Homo sapiens: one gene and its partners. The protein of the gene in region 1 purifies or fractionates together with the protein of each later gene. This does not show direct contact. Each region holds a gene or a part of one and is shown on either strand. Other genes may lie near its edges.

Region 1 (5,181 bases):
AGCCATTATGTGACAGACTGAAACCTGGGTCGGCTGACTCCAGAAACCCCTTCCACCCTCAAAGGTGCCAATCACTCCACAGGCCCATAAACTATAACTGCAATTTGCTAAGAAAATGAATCAAGACAAGCCATCAGATTAAAACAACAAAACACAGTAGTTTGATTCATTTCCCACCAACTACACCAGGCACTATAGGACAGGCCGCCAGTGAGTGACGTTAGTGTCAGTAAAGATCATCCTCTCTTACTGACCATCCGTGGACAGAGAGGCGCAGACCTCACCCTCTACAGAGCAGGCACAGAGAGGGCCTGTGCCAAGCACTCAGAGGCAGACTTGTTTATTCCTCAACACTCCTGCTCCAAAGTCACCAAGAGGTACACAACTCTGTGGAGGACACACTGACTAAAAAGCAGGGGGACAAACCACAGGCCCAGCTCGCAGCACCTGCCAGCCATACATCAGGTGCTGTCTACAGTATTGCTGGACTGGAACAGAACTTGAACTCCAGCTGTTTATACAAAGTAAAATCTAAAATTGCTAAAGGACCTCTTCATGGGTCCTAGAATTTCCACTACACCAGTTTATTATCGAATCCACTATATTTTATTATTACACATTTCAATCAGTAATTATTTATAGTGATTTTAGAGTTTTTAAGCTCATGATCTTATTTTGTACTGTTTTTACTGTTTACAAATACACATTAAACTAAAGAAGACAGAGAGATGGTATCTATCTAAATTTACCTGCATTGGGATTAGTATCATTTTATCCAAAACAACAAATTATAAACCACATATGAAAAGTCGGTTGAAGTGAATACAACTCTTTGAAGCAGTACTTGATTTTATGCATGTGTTCCCCTCAAATTAGATGTAAATCAAAAGTGGGGAGAACACACTCTTTGTTAAGGGTCCTAAGGAAGCTTGCTAATTAGAGATTCCTACATGAACAGCATGGATGCCAGCCTGCTCAGCTGGTACTAGCTTTCCCACACATTGTATCAGAGTTTTGCCAGTAAGATAGAACAGCTGATTCTTTGGGAATGAAAACTTTAAATAGCGAATAATTTGTCTCTTTTATGATACAGTCTATAGCTATAGTTCATTATAATAAAGAAACACCACCCTATTGAGAAGAAATGTGTCATTTCTTTTAGCAGTATGGATTTGTAATGTGTATCACAGTATGTACTATTAAAAAACAAGACAGTATGTTTTGGGAAGGGAAAACAATTGTTGAAGATAAGCGTCAACTATTTGAAATGGGAACAAATATGGACATAAACAAATTTTATGTGCAACATAAGCACCCTTTTAATTTCAGAAACCTCACTTTCCATTTAAAAACATGTCTTCTTATTGTTGAAGATCCAGCATATGTATCAATTTTCAAGCTGCCATCCTATTTCATACAGATCTTAAAAAATGGCCAGGTTTCTAATTCTCTCTCCTTACCCTTACTGAATTTCAACATGGTGCCCCCTCCAAATATATGATGTTGGTTTGTGCAGCTGGCCATGGTGGCTCACGCCGGTAATCCCAGCACTTTGGGAGGCTGAGGCAGGCGGATTGCCTGAGGTCGGGAGTTCAAGACCAGCCTAGCCAGCACGGTGAAACCCCGTCTCTACTGAAAATACAAAAATTAGCCGGGCATGGTGGCATGCACCTGTAATCCCAGCTACTCGGGAAGCTGAGGCAGGAGAATCACTTGAACCCGGAAGGCAGAAGTTGCAGTGAGCCAAGATCGTGCCAATGTGCTCCAGCCTTTTATTAAGACAGAGCGAGACTCCATCTCAATACATAAATAAATAAATAAATTTGTGCTTCTGAAGTAAAAAAAAAAAAATCCATATTTTTTAAATAAAAATTGTACTTAAGAGAATTAAGAATTCTTGCCTCTTTGATATGTAGTTCCTCTCTCCAAGAACTACTGGGGTCCGCTACCCTAACCTAGAGCCATCCTTCCTGAGAGAAATGCAGAAAAAATCCAACAGATGTTCAAAACAGCACACCCAATGGCTTTCCTGCCAGTCTCACTAAAGGTATCTTTTGCCTTTGATCCACTTCAAATGTTGACATTTGTCCATTTAAAGAGTACCAGCCAGTATGGACAAGTTCTCCATCTATGGAAAGAACATACACATTCTCTCTTATAAATCTTGCTGTTCCAAATCTATGGCCCTCCTACTCTTAAAAACCCTGCCTTTCCCTGAAGGCTGATTTAGTGTAGACTAAGATTACAGAAATAGCAAAGCCTCTGTGGAGATTGGAAAAGTCAGCTACACCTCCTCCCCATCTAAAAAAATCAACTAAGTTTAGCCGTAACGCATTGGTAATGAGAACAATACCGATAATTCTGGACTGTCTATGGCAATGAACACTTGGAAAGCCCAGAAGGGACACTGAAAATCAACAGACTGGCAACTCACACTTCCACGTGAAACTCTGGGAGCCTGTATGATGAAGTCAGACTACTTCGCTAATAGACAATTAGGCTTAAGAAATCCGAGTTGTTGGAGAAGTGAATAAGCATGTGGATAAAAGAAAAAAGTGATGTCAGCACTACATTTTTCTAAACCCGTAATAATTTTAAAATAATGCTTACCTTTTCTAATTATGAAATTAGTAAATGGTCAAAATAAATACTTTTAAAATGGCATAGGATGACGCAGTGGCTCACGCCTGTAATCCTAGCACTTGGGAGGCCAAGGCAGGCGGATCACTTGAGCTCAGGAGTTCGAGACCAGCCTGAGCAACATGTCAAAACTCCGTCTCTACTAAAAAATACAAAAATAAATAAATAAATAAAATAGCCACGCATGGTGGCACGCACCTGTAGTCCCAGCTACTCAGGAGGCTGAGGCAGGAGAATCGCTTGAACTGGGGAGGCAGAGGTTGCAGTGAGCCGAGATCGCGCCACTGCACTCTAGCCTGGGCAACAGAGTGAGACTCTGTCTCAAAAAAATAAAAATAAATGATACAAAAAATATAGAGATAAAAACACTTGAGAATCACATCACCCTGATACTGTTGTTAAGTTTCACTGATTTTCCTTTTTTCTCAACTAACATACATACTCTGAGGGGAAGAAAAAGGAGGGGAGCAATCCGTCCCTCCCTGCCTTCTGTGAGCACTGTACTGAGCACTGCTACTGACCTGGCCCATGCCAGTCCCAAGAACAATCCTTCAGAGGAGCGCCGCTCCCTATTTCACCAACATGGACACTGGGGCCCGGCCCAGGCACTCCCAGATGTGCAGTCCTCCAGGCAGTGTGGTTTGGGGGCTTGACATTTGTTATCTTGTGACTTTTAAAATAATTCTTGAGTTTAAAAACTCCCAGAGATTTCTTTGTCATAAGACAGGAAGTAGATTAAAGACAGAGAACAAAGGAGAGGGCCAGACACTTCCCTGGGTAAGAGAACCAATGGTGGGCTCGGGTCCTCCTCAGGGAACACCTTACTTAGTGTTTTCTGAGAAGGAAAAGTGACATCTCCAGGGTACTCAGGCTAGAGGAGGAGAATGACAATCAAACATGGACAGACTGCAGGAAGCCTCTGAAGTGAGGCCGTCAGATGCCTTTACTCTGGGAGATGCAAGTGATATTCACTCAGGGACATTTGCTCAGGCCTCCCCTATAAAGGGGTGGCTAACATCTAATCCACTCTGGAGCTGGGTGTTCACTATTTCCAGAGATGCCAATGTGAGGCCCTGCGTCAGCTTCAAAGAAGCCTCTGGACACTGTCCCCAACCACACCCCCTGCTCCTAGGCCAGTACCTGGCACTTCAGAGTCCTGAACGCACAATCACAACCAGCTGAGTGATCCGACAAGAAACGAGTGGAATGAATGCACGAGGTAAATAAAATGTACGTCACAGACAATTGTGGAAGCCACACTTCATGAAAAAGATAACGGCACTGCACAAAAGAGCAAAAGAGGCAAGTGAAACGCACAAGGAAATGAGGTGGCCGTGGGCACCCACGATGAGGCAGCAACCTGCATTTCTAATAGCACTGGGGTGAGCGTGGAGGAGATAGTGCTCTCTACGCAGGGCCTCTGATCACAGAGCGTGAAGACTCCCTTTTAAGCCCTTAGAGGTGAAACATAAGAAAAGCAAAAGGGCCTGCCAAGTTCATGCAGTGAGTAGCCAGTTTCTGGAACTTGCTGCCTGAAAAAGGAAGTAGGAAAGACTGGAAATCGGTTCAGACAGCAGACCCCGAAGTAATTATGACCACTTATGTGCCCCTCCTTGGAACATTATTCAAATGGTTCTTCAACCTAAGTGGTTCCATAATTTGTTACCCTCCCTCGCATCCTATACACTTCCTTTTGAGGTCATAAGCTCCATATCTTCAAACTGTTCAGCCAGTAGCAACATCTATTTTAACTCAGAACGCCTGCTCTCCAAGCCCCCAAGCCCTCTCCAGGGCCCCGTGCCCAGGCGGGGAGCTGGCAGTGAGGTTCCTGAATGGGAAAGGAAACCCCCACACAGGCATGACCATGACACCTGGCTCAGTCAGCTACCCGTTGAGTGGTGTTTTTTTTTTTTAACTAATTGTTTTTAGTGGCAAAGTATACATGCACATGGTTTAAAAATATATATCCACCCTAAGAAAAGGGTTTGCAATAGAAAGGAAGTTTTCTATCCCAGATGTTTCTTGGGGTGTATCCACTGTTAACAGTTTCTTGTGTATCTTTTCAGGAATTTTTTAAGCACACACAAGCATAAATATGAGTTATTTTTCCTGAAAAAAAAAAAAAAAAAAAAAAAAAAGGAGCAGGAATCATATTATCCATGCTGCTCTGCATCTGGGTCTTTCCACTCCGCCATGTGTCTGGGGCTTATTCCACTGCAGCTCTCATGGATGGGCCTCACTATTTACCTGTTACAGAGGGTCAGAGATGCTACACAATATATTTAACCAGTTCCCAATGAAGGCTATTTAGGCTGTGCTCAGTCTGTTGTCATTATCAACTAGTTAAGGTTTTTAGAATATATAGGTAGATCTGAATCTACTAGTTAGGACCCCACTGGTTTTAAGGACAGTGATCCTCCTAATCCTACTTTACTATTCATACTTCTAAATGAAAACAAACAAGAACAACCCTCACCTCTCCATCACTCTACTTAAAAGGTCTATACTCAGGAAAAATATTCTTACCCCTTCAATGCTGAA
Region 2 (4,724 bases), on another chromosome or scaffold:
AAATGGCCAATAAGCATGTTAAAAGATGCTTAATATCATTAATTACAGAAATGCAAATCAAAACTATAATGAGATGCCACTTCAAACCTATTAGGATGGCTACAATAAAAATATCGGATAGTAAGTGTTCAGCAAGGATCTGGAGAAATCAGAACCCTCACACACTACTGGTGGGAATATAAAATGGTGCAACCACACTTCGCAAAACAGTCTATTACTAAAAAGGTAAACATAGAGTTATCATTTGACCATGCAATTTTATTCCTATGTGTTTACGGCCACAAGAGAATTGAAAACATGTCCACAGAGAAACCTGCACATGAATATTTATGGCAACATTATTAATAGCCAAAAGGTAGAAACAATCCAAATGTCCATCAAGTGGTAAAAGGATGAATAAAATTTCGTACATCCATACAATGGAATATATTCAGCCACGAAAAGGAATAAGGTACCAATTCATGCTACAATATGGATGAACCTTGGAAACATTATGCTAAGAGAAATCAGCCATATACAAAAGACCACATATTATAGGATTTCATTCATATGTAATGGTCAGAGTAGGCAAATATACAGAAACAGAAGGTAGCTTAGGGATGGAAGAGGATGGGGGAGGGTTGAGGATGTGATAAATGGTACCAGGTTTCTTTTTGAGGTAATGACAATGTTCTAAAATTGACTGTGGTGATGGTTGCAAAACTCTGTGACTATATTAAAAACCAATGAACCATACACTTGTGCTCCTTAAATGTGTGAATTGTATGGTATGTAAATTATAATTTCAATAAAGGTGTTATTTAAATAATGAAAGAAGAAGAGATTGCAAGTGGTACCTCTTTCATGAATAGCATACTTGAGTTTACGCAGGGTAAAAGAGAAAGCTGGGCATCATAAAGCTACACAGGACACAAAATTTGCAAACGTCACTAACAATTTAAATAGCAATTTGATTCAACAGTCAATAACAAAGATGTTGTGACTTGTGGAAGACACTGTTACTTACCTATCCAATATCTACTTTTCTCCTTTTCCTTGCTAAAAGAATCTTGCTAGATTTTCTTTGGGGTGACTCATCTAAATATTGACTTTTGCAGCCACCCTTGTAACTGATTCTACCTAGTGAGAAATAAATAAAGGTCTTCTGGGAGTTTCTGGAAAGGCTTAAATTCCTGATCAAAATCAACAGTCAGGGCTGGCACAGTCCATGTCCCTCTTCTTGTTGATGTGAACATAGATTTGATGCCTACAGGCGCAGCGACAAGCAAGACAAGGAAAACCAACAAACTAAAGACGAATGATCAGCGACAGAAGGAGCCTGGGTCTTTGATTACCTTATAGTACTTCTGCACCAGTGTGGACTTCCTAATCTCACCCTTATTTTAGAAAAGGAAAACCCTATATAAGTTAGAAAGGCAATATACCTAGGCTTTCTGTTTGTTAAAGCCAGACTCAGACTTTACCAGTACAGTGGTTGCCCTTATTTGCAGGGGTTATTTTCCAAGACTCCAGTGGATGCCTGAAACCAGGTAGTACTGAACCGTATATGTTTTTTCCTATACATACATATTTATGATAAAACTTAATTTATAATTTATAAATTGGGCACGGTAAATGATTAGCAACAATAGCTAGAAATAAAATAGAGCAATTATAAAATATATTCTGTAATGAAATATATTACAGAAAATATATTCTGTAATGAAAGTTATATGAATGTGGTCTCTCAAAATACTGTAATATATTCAGTACCTGGTTAACTGTGGATAACTGAAACTGTGGAAAGTGAAACTGTGGACATGAGAGGACTACTGTATAATACTTCTTCAGCCAAAAGTTTTAAGTCTTTCAGGCTATTTGGAATTCAAAGATAGTCTCAAAAATCAGAGTGAGAAAGTAGGCATAGGAATTTCTGATTTTTCACCCTGGACATCTAGGAATTTTTCTTGAAAAAAAAATCCATTTCCAAATTCAGGAGTCCAGAAAATAAGAACCCATATTACCTGGCACATTCTGTCAATATTTTCTTCAGTTGGCATTACAAAGTATACTGCAGGAACATCTGGAATAGGATCTCGATCAGAGTGTAAAAGCCTAGAAGACATAAGGAACTAAAACTTATTTTTTTATTCACTTATTTAAAACAATATTCCTCAAAATGGGAGTTCACTAGCTCAAGGACAGTAACCAGTGCTCTAAAAGCTCTTGTTGCAATTAATCAGTGAGTTAACCTATCTTTCTCCCATGTCAGTGTTGTTATTATTTATTAGCATTAGTAAGACCCTAATTTCTTGTTAGTCTTCATTTGTTCTATTCTGCTCACACTTTTAGCACTGCTTATGGTCAGACATTCTTTTCTACCAACACTCTCCTTGAATGAGAACTAAAACATATTCAGAATCAATCTTATTCCCACTTTTCATAGAAATGTGGTGGTCAGAGGGGAAGGGTGAATGTGAGGAAAGTGTGGCTCTCTGAGGGGAAAATCAGAAAGCTAGGGGACGCAATGAAAAAAATTTTAGAAGCAATTCTTTAGAAGCTATAAAAAAATTTAACCAAACATGAAATCAAATATATTTTTTAAATGAAAGGTATATAAATGTTTCCTTAAAAATTAAAGACAATCTATTTTTGTCTATTTATTGTTTCATAAGAGAATGTAAGCATCTTATAGATTAAGTCATTTTACAGTTTTCTCCTTTTACAATTTAGGAACAATTTCCATACAAATATCCCAACATCAAACCATGCTTATATGAGGAATATTCACCTCTCTCTAGTCATCCTTCTATAATCAAGGAGAGAGAGGAAAGAGGCACATGCTGCCAGTGAGTCTGTGTTTAATAACTGTTGCCACTGATATCAAGAATGATAATGTGATGGCTGCCATAGGTTGTGGTCTTTTTCACACTGCTTGTCCAACTGTCTAATGGGCTACAACCACCATTTCATACTGTGGAAACTTGTAATTACTGTTTCCTACAAATTAGCCTAAACCAGCTTGCAGGGTATAAAGTAACTGATACAGTATTCTCCAGCAAATAGAGGAGAATGGTTGGAGGCAAAGTACACAAGAGTTCACCATGGTAGCTGTGTAATATTTCCATGCTCTGGTGGCAAGTAGCAAGTTAGGCAGAGATTACGAGACTCTCAAACTGGTAGACTATCCTATTACCCCTGAATGAAGTACTGAGTAAGGCCTCACTTCTGTTAGTTACTGTTACTGAGCCATTACAGTTCAGTAGATAAACAGCACAGAATTAGTGGTCAAGCAATGTGGCCATGGCTCTGTTATTAACTGGTTGTACAAATGTGAGACAATCACTTAAGCCTTCTAAACTTCAGTCCTTCCATTAGTAAATAAAGGAGTTAAACACTTAGTACAGAGACAATGGCACTCAATGTTTATTAATAAACCACAATTTCCAAGGATAGCATGAAGTTAAACTTTACTTCAGTCCATAAAAATTAACACATTATCAAAGCAAACCTGCTTATTTCAGTCTGACATAAAAATGAAAGGAAAACTCATCAAATACCGTATTTCATGAAACCCAAGGTGGTAACAATTTTAAAACATAATTTTTAAAATATATTTTATATACTACTGAGAAATAAAAATGCTGCCAGTTATGACATATCATCAGTGATAAGATAGATCCTAATTTCAGAAATGTAAAAAAGGACATTTGGAATTGACAAACTATAACAGTCTATTAACAAATGCTCATTATACAACTGAAGAATTTGAGCTGATTAAACCAGATTCTGTCAAGTTACTTATCGAAAATCTAAAACTATATTCCCAGTAAGAGTACATTTCAATTCAATATATGATATCATAAAAATTGGTTATAACATCATAAATAGAACAAAATGCAAATAGCTTAGAACACCATAAAATTGGACTCTTTTAGTATACAGAAGTATTAGTATCTATCCATGAACACAGTCCTTCTCCAAACGTTCTTTTTTTTTTTTTTTTTTTTTTTTTCAACAGAATCTTGCTCTGCTGCCCAGGCCAGAGTGTAGTGTCACGATCTCGGTTCACTACAACCTCTGCCTCCTGGGTTCAAGCAATTGTCCTTCCTCAGCCTCCCAAGTAGCTAGGATTACAGGTGGGTACGCCACCATGCCCAGCTAATTTTTGTACTTTTAGTAGAGACGGGGTTTCACCATGTTGGCCAGGCTGGTCTCGAACTCCTGACCTCAAGTGATCCGCCCACCCGGGCCTCCAGAAGTGCTAGGATTACTGGCATGAGCCACTGTGCCTGGCCCCTTCTCCAAATGTTCTACTAGGCAAGCCCATAAAGTACTGCATTTGTTTTATTTTTATTAAACATATCAGAAGCAATATAATCACACAAACTTAACAGTTAAGACAACACAGATAGCCCACTATGGTGATTAACAGTCATTACTTCATAGTCACTTAAATTTTTCATATTAATGATTAATTAGATATTCCTTTTTTTTAAAAAAATATAGACACTCCCTGACTTACAATGGTTCAACTTAGGATTTTTTGACTTTATGATGGTGCAAAAGCAGTGCATATTCAATAGAAATCATATTTTAAGCACCTATAAAAACATTCTGTTTTCAACTTTCAGCACTGCAGTCAATAAATTACGTGAGATATTCAACAGTTTATTTTTATTTTAATTAATTAATTTTTTTTAAATTTTGAGACAGAGTCTTGCTCTTTTGCCCAGGCTGGAGTG
Region 3 (4,724 bases), on another chromosome or scaffold:
CTCCTAAGTCTTGGGCAAAATTCAGAAGTGTAATCCACACAAAGGACTCACAATCTCATGAAAACTCTGCAGTGCTGAGCTCTCCTTATAGTACACACTCAGTTATTGCAATCCATAAAAACACAGCATCATGAAGCTAAAACAGGCCCTGGAGAGCATTAAAGCAGTGGTTTTTAAACTGTGTGTCTCTGGGCCCTCTGGTTGGTTCCTAGGGGTTCCTCAAGGAGAGGGGGAAGGTAACAGAAGGGTAGTAGGCTGGCGAATGAACCTCTCTCCCCAAACCTCTCACTCCAGCTTTTACCAAAGCTGCTCCTTATTTCATTAGCTAAAAGGTTCCTGCCATATTTAAAAAGAAATCTATATGATTCAGCACACTCATGCTCTGTTCACAGCTTGCATTCTAAACCTCCATTGTTTCCCAATCCTACTTCTGTATGGTTTGGCCCTATCTCCTGTCCTTCCTGCCTCTCATGGACTCACTGTACCTGTTGCATGATACTGCTTCTTTGAATCATGCTCCCTCAACTGAAATCCCCTAACTATGATTATACTCAACCCTTAGGTAAAATTTATAATCCAGGTGGTCCCAGCTCAACCTTTGGGTCCCAACACTGGCACAGAAAGTCAACACTGCCTCTGAAAAGGAAATCAAGGAGGACCTGGGGAATCAATGCTAAAAAAGTTACAGTTGTTACTCATACCTGAGTTGTTGTGCTACCTGTGTCTGCTTTTCCACTAGAATGTAAATGTGTTGAGGGAGGAACGGAATCTTAGTAATAAAAGCTACTATTTACTGAATGTTTACTCTTAATACCGGACTAAGTATAAATGTGCATCATGTAATATTCAAGAATCATGTGAGTATCACAGAGCTTTAGAACTGCAATGAGCCTTGGACAGAGATCACCTAGCCCCAAAACTGAGAGAGACAGTAGATTAACAGTTATTCATTAATTCAAGAAGTATTTATTAAGCACCTGCATCCCCACACTGTTCTAGAAGCTACAGATTCAGTGCTAACAACACAAAGTTCTTCATTTTCAGAAAACATATATTCGAGTAGACAAACAACAAATAAATGGATATATGATCTGCTAGGGGAAGGGACAGAAAAAGGAGGCCACTTTACGCAGGGCATTCAAGGAAGGCCTCACGGAGGCAACATTTAACCAGAGACCTGAGGAACTGAGAGATCAAGCCATATGGAATCTAGGAGAAAAGTGTTCCAGGTAGAGGGATGCAAAGGTTCTAAGCGGGAAATGTGCCTGATGCATGTGAGAAAATGAAAGAGGCCAGAATAGCTGGAGTAGAGTGAGCAAAAGGAGGGGGAGAGGAGGTGAGGCCAGAGAGGGAGCAGGGCCAGATCATCTGGCTTTGGGCCACTCCAAGAACTCTGAATTTCAGCCAAAGATTCAAGATAATCAATTCCTAAAAATAAGTAAATAAAAAACGAAGTTTAGCTTCCACAAAAGAATGTATTATCAAGAACAAAATCTCATCTGCATGCCTAATCTGAAAATAGAGTTCCCAGCAATTCAGGATCATTATTACCTTATTTAGAATCAAAGTGTCCTTATTCTACAAGAAATCTCTGCAGTTATCTAATCGAAGCTTTCAGTTTTACTAATGTGGAAACTGAGGCCCAGAGAAATCACATGAGCAGCCCACTTACTGGCAGACCTGCGGCTAGAACATGGGTTCCTGCTTTCCTGTGCGGTGCTCTTCAGTAGCCCCTGCTGCCTCTGCACAGCAGTTCGGTGCTTACGGGTTTCTTGCTTACCTGTGTGGTAGCCCCCCCTGGCTCCTGTAACCTTTATAAGTCAGTAAGAGAATAGAAGAGCTGCCACTATGAGGCATCTCTAGGCCTATCCTCACCCCAGAACCTGTCATTATAAACTCCTGCATTTTCTAGTTTCTCATTCCCCACAGAGTTGAAGACAGCCAGGCAGGCAAGGTGAAGGCACATCAGGCACTGTCCCAGGCACTGTGAGGGATGTTTTTGTTGCTTTTGCTTGCCCAACATTCCTTACTCCCTATTCCCAGACAGGGCACTGCCTTTTCCATGATTCTGGTGGGGGCTACATAGCATCCAAGCCACCTATTAACCACAGATTGAGGTGGACATAGACCTGACCAATTAAAGAAACATTCCTCTGGCTATAATGACTACTGTAAGAGAGAGCAGAGGATCAAGCAGAACCAACTAGATTTCCTTCCTGGGCTTTATGGATAAGAGCTAGAGAAAGAAGCTCTATCCCTGAATTTTCCAGTTATATGAGCTAAGGTATTCCCACTTTGTTCAGGTTAATTTACATTAGGTTACTATTACTTGCAAACAAAAGAACTCGGACTCATGTAGGCACCTGCATACCTTTTCTTATTTCACCTAACAACTTTATAAGGTTGCTATTACTCACTCTATTTTAGCCATAAGGTAACTGAAATTAAGTGGCTTCCCCAAGTTCATATAACAGATAAGACACATTCAAATCCAAGTCTTTCTGCCCCAGGTTCCATTCAGTATGCAGTATTCAGAATTAACTCAAGAAGAAGAAACTCACTGCCATTCAGAAACCAAACAAATTCTGGTTTAAAAATTACAGGAGAATGTAGTGGGCAGAGGGAGAGCAGCATTAAACCAGGTCAAAGGACCTGGCTTCTACTTATGGCTCTGTGCTATGACCTCAACTGCTACGACTTTGGGCAAGTAATTTCATTTATTTGGGTGTTAGTTTTCTTATCTATTAACAAAATGAACACAAGGTCCTTTTGAGTGAAAAAAAAAAAAACCACAAACAAACAAACATGGGTCTGCTTTAAGCATACAGATTCTACTGTTACTATATGTCAAGTAGATTTCAACTTGAATGTCAAGCCTAATAACAGGTAACGGCTCCTGGGGTACAATGTTGCAAAGGATTCTGAGCTATAGGGATCCACTAAGAAATTAGCACTGGCTTCCATGATCACAAGGAAGAAAAGAAAGTAAAAGCTGCATACCTGCCACACATCTGCCATCACTGAAAGAGTTTCACCTTGGCAAAGAAATGTTACCATCTTTTACGAATGCAGACAGTACTTCTGCACCACCGCTGATTCATCAGTACCTGCTCAGGATTTTCACTCATTCCTCACGCACTTAACTAAATTAAGGAATGAAAGTGCAAGAAAACTAAGTGGTTTGGAAAATACAGCTTGGTGCCACTAAAGAAAATATGTCTAAATGGCCTACATGAGGAGGGGGGAGGTAGTTTGGGGGAACAATAATAATCAGTCTGTTTTTTTAAAATACATACATATAGACTATGTGAGTAGGGTAACTCAGAAGCTACCCTACTTAGCTTGTGAGTTAAGTAGGGTATTATCACGTCCACTTTATAGAAATGGAAAACGAGAGTCAGACTTGCCCAAGTTCACCCATTTCTAAGTAGCAGAAGCGAGATTTGAACCCAAGGCCCAGGTCTCTTTCCAATCCCATCATCCTCACTAGTCCCACACTTCAAATGAGTTAACTAATCAAATTCCCATTGCAGAGTGACATATTCATTATTATTTGGAGTTGTTCGAATAATATAAGTTCCTCCCCCAAATAATCTGAAAAGTCGTTACTCTCCATTTGTAATTTAATGGGTAGACATGCATTTGAGTATATATAAATTTAGTAAAATTGAGCATAAAAGTTAAATGTTTAAAAGAATGATGCAGAAGCAATCAGCCTGTTGTTGGAAGGTAGGGACTGCAATAAAATTGCAGTTTCAATGCAATTTTATTCAACTTAATATAACCTCTACAACAATTCAGTGAGATGGAAATCTGGCATCAGGCATATATTTGAGGAATGGAATGGAAGAATAGAAATTGAACCAGATAAAACGCATCCTAGAAGTAACAGCAAATGCTTCAAGGAAGGCACTTACCAAAAGGCATACTATAACTTATTACATTTCATTAAGTCTGACAACCAGGGCTAAACCTGAATTAGAATATGTGCTTCTGGTATTTACCAGACTTTTCTCTATAAGGAATCCAGGCCAAACAAAATAACAGCCAAACTTTTGACATCTAATTGTAGTAAAAGCACAGGACATCCATCACTAGCTCTTCTAGTTAAACTTCCCACAAGAGAAGATGGGGAGTGGGGAACGGTTGCAAGAACAGGAGATAATACACAAAGCAATGACAACATAAAATCAAAATTGCTTAAAAGAATGTATGTTTCCTCTACGTCAGGGGGACAGTGTCCCTGAACAACACAGCCCATGAACTCACTTAAGGTGATGTGACACCTACTCACATCAATACATAGCAGAACTGCAAGTTGCATTGTCATGCGGTCCAACCCTGTGACATATGCACAAAGCTTTTCTCAAACATCTCTGAAAAGCAGTCATCACTCTGTTTAATCACTTCCAGTGACAGGGAACTCAGCACCCTATGGGACTGTTACTGTCCCTGAGGCCCATTAACTCAAAACTCAAACACATTTTCACCACTCAGGGAGAGGTGGAAGTGATCACAGGGCTCTCCAAAGGGCTTGCCAACCCAACTGTGCCTCCTGTCTCTACCATTCCCAAATCCCCCCTTTCCCTGAGCAGGACTCAAAATTAGCACAGTGTTAATAAATCAGTGGTTTCAGAGTTAGAAGGGACCCTTAAAAAGCCAATACTGTGATATTCATACCACAGTTCTACAAAAGGAATCTCAAGAAGTGCTTGGGCCAAACT

The links.
Region 2: the proteins of STX16 (region 1) and SCFD1 purify together in Homo sapiens (affinity purification with mass spectrometry; one large-scale study listed by BioGRID and IntAct). This does not show direct contact.
Region 3: the proteins of STX16 (region 1) and STX18 purify together in Homo sapiens (affinity purification with mass spectrometry; one large-scale study listed by BioGRID and IntAct). This does not show direct contact.

Annotation. Positions count from the first base shown.
Region 1 is NC_000020.11:58,660,311-58,665,491, reverse strand, and holds part of STX16 (syntaxin-16), read right to left. Parts: intron 1-5,181. UniProt on the Homo sapiens protein: SNARE involved in vesicular transport from the late endosomes to the trans-Golgi network.
Region 2 is NC_000014.9:30,631,317-30,636,040, reverse strand, and holds part of SCFD1 (sec1 family domain-containing protein 1), read right to left. Parts: intron 2,095-4,724; coding exon 2,004-2,094; intron 1-2,003. UniProt on the Homo sapiens protein: Plays a role in SNARE-pin assembly and Golgi-to-ER retrograde transport via its interaction with COG4. Involved in vesicular transport between the endoplasmic reticulum and the Golgi.
Region 3 is NC_000004.12:4,535,327-4,540,050, forward strand, and holds part of STX18 (syntaxin-18), read right to left. Parts: intron 1-4,724. UniProt on the Homo sapiens protein: Syntaxin that may be involved in targeting and fusion of Golgi-derived retrograde transport vesicles with the ER.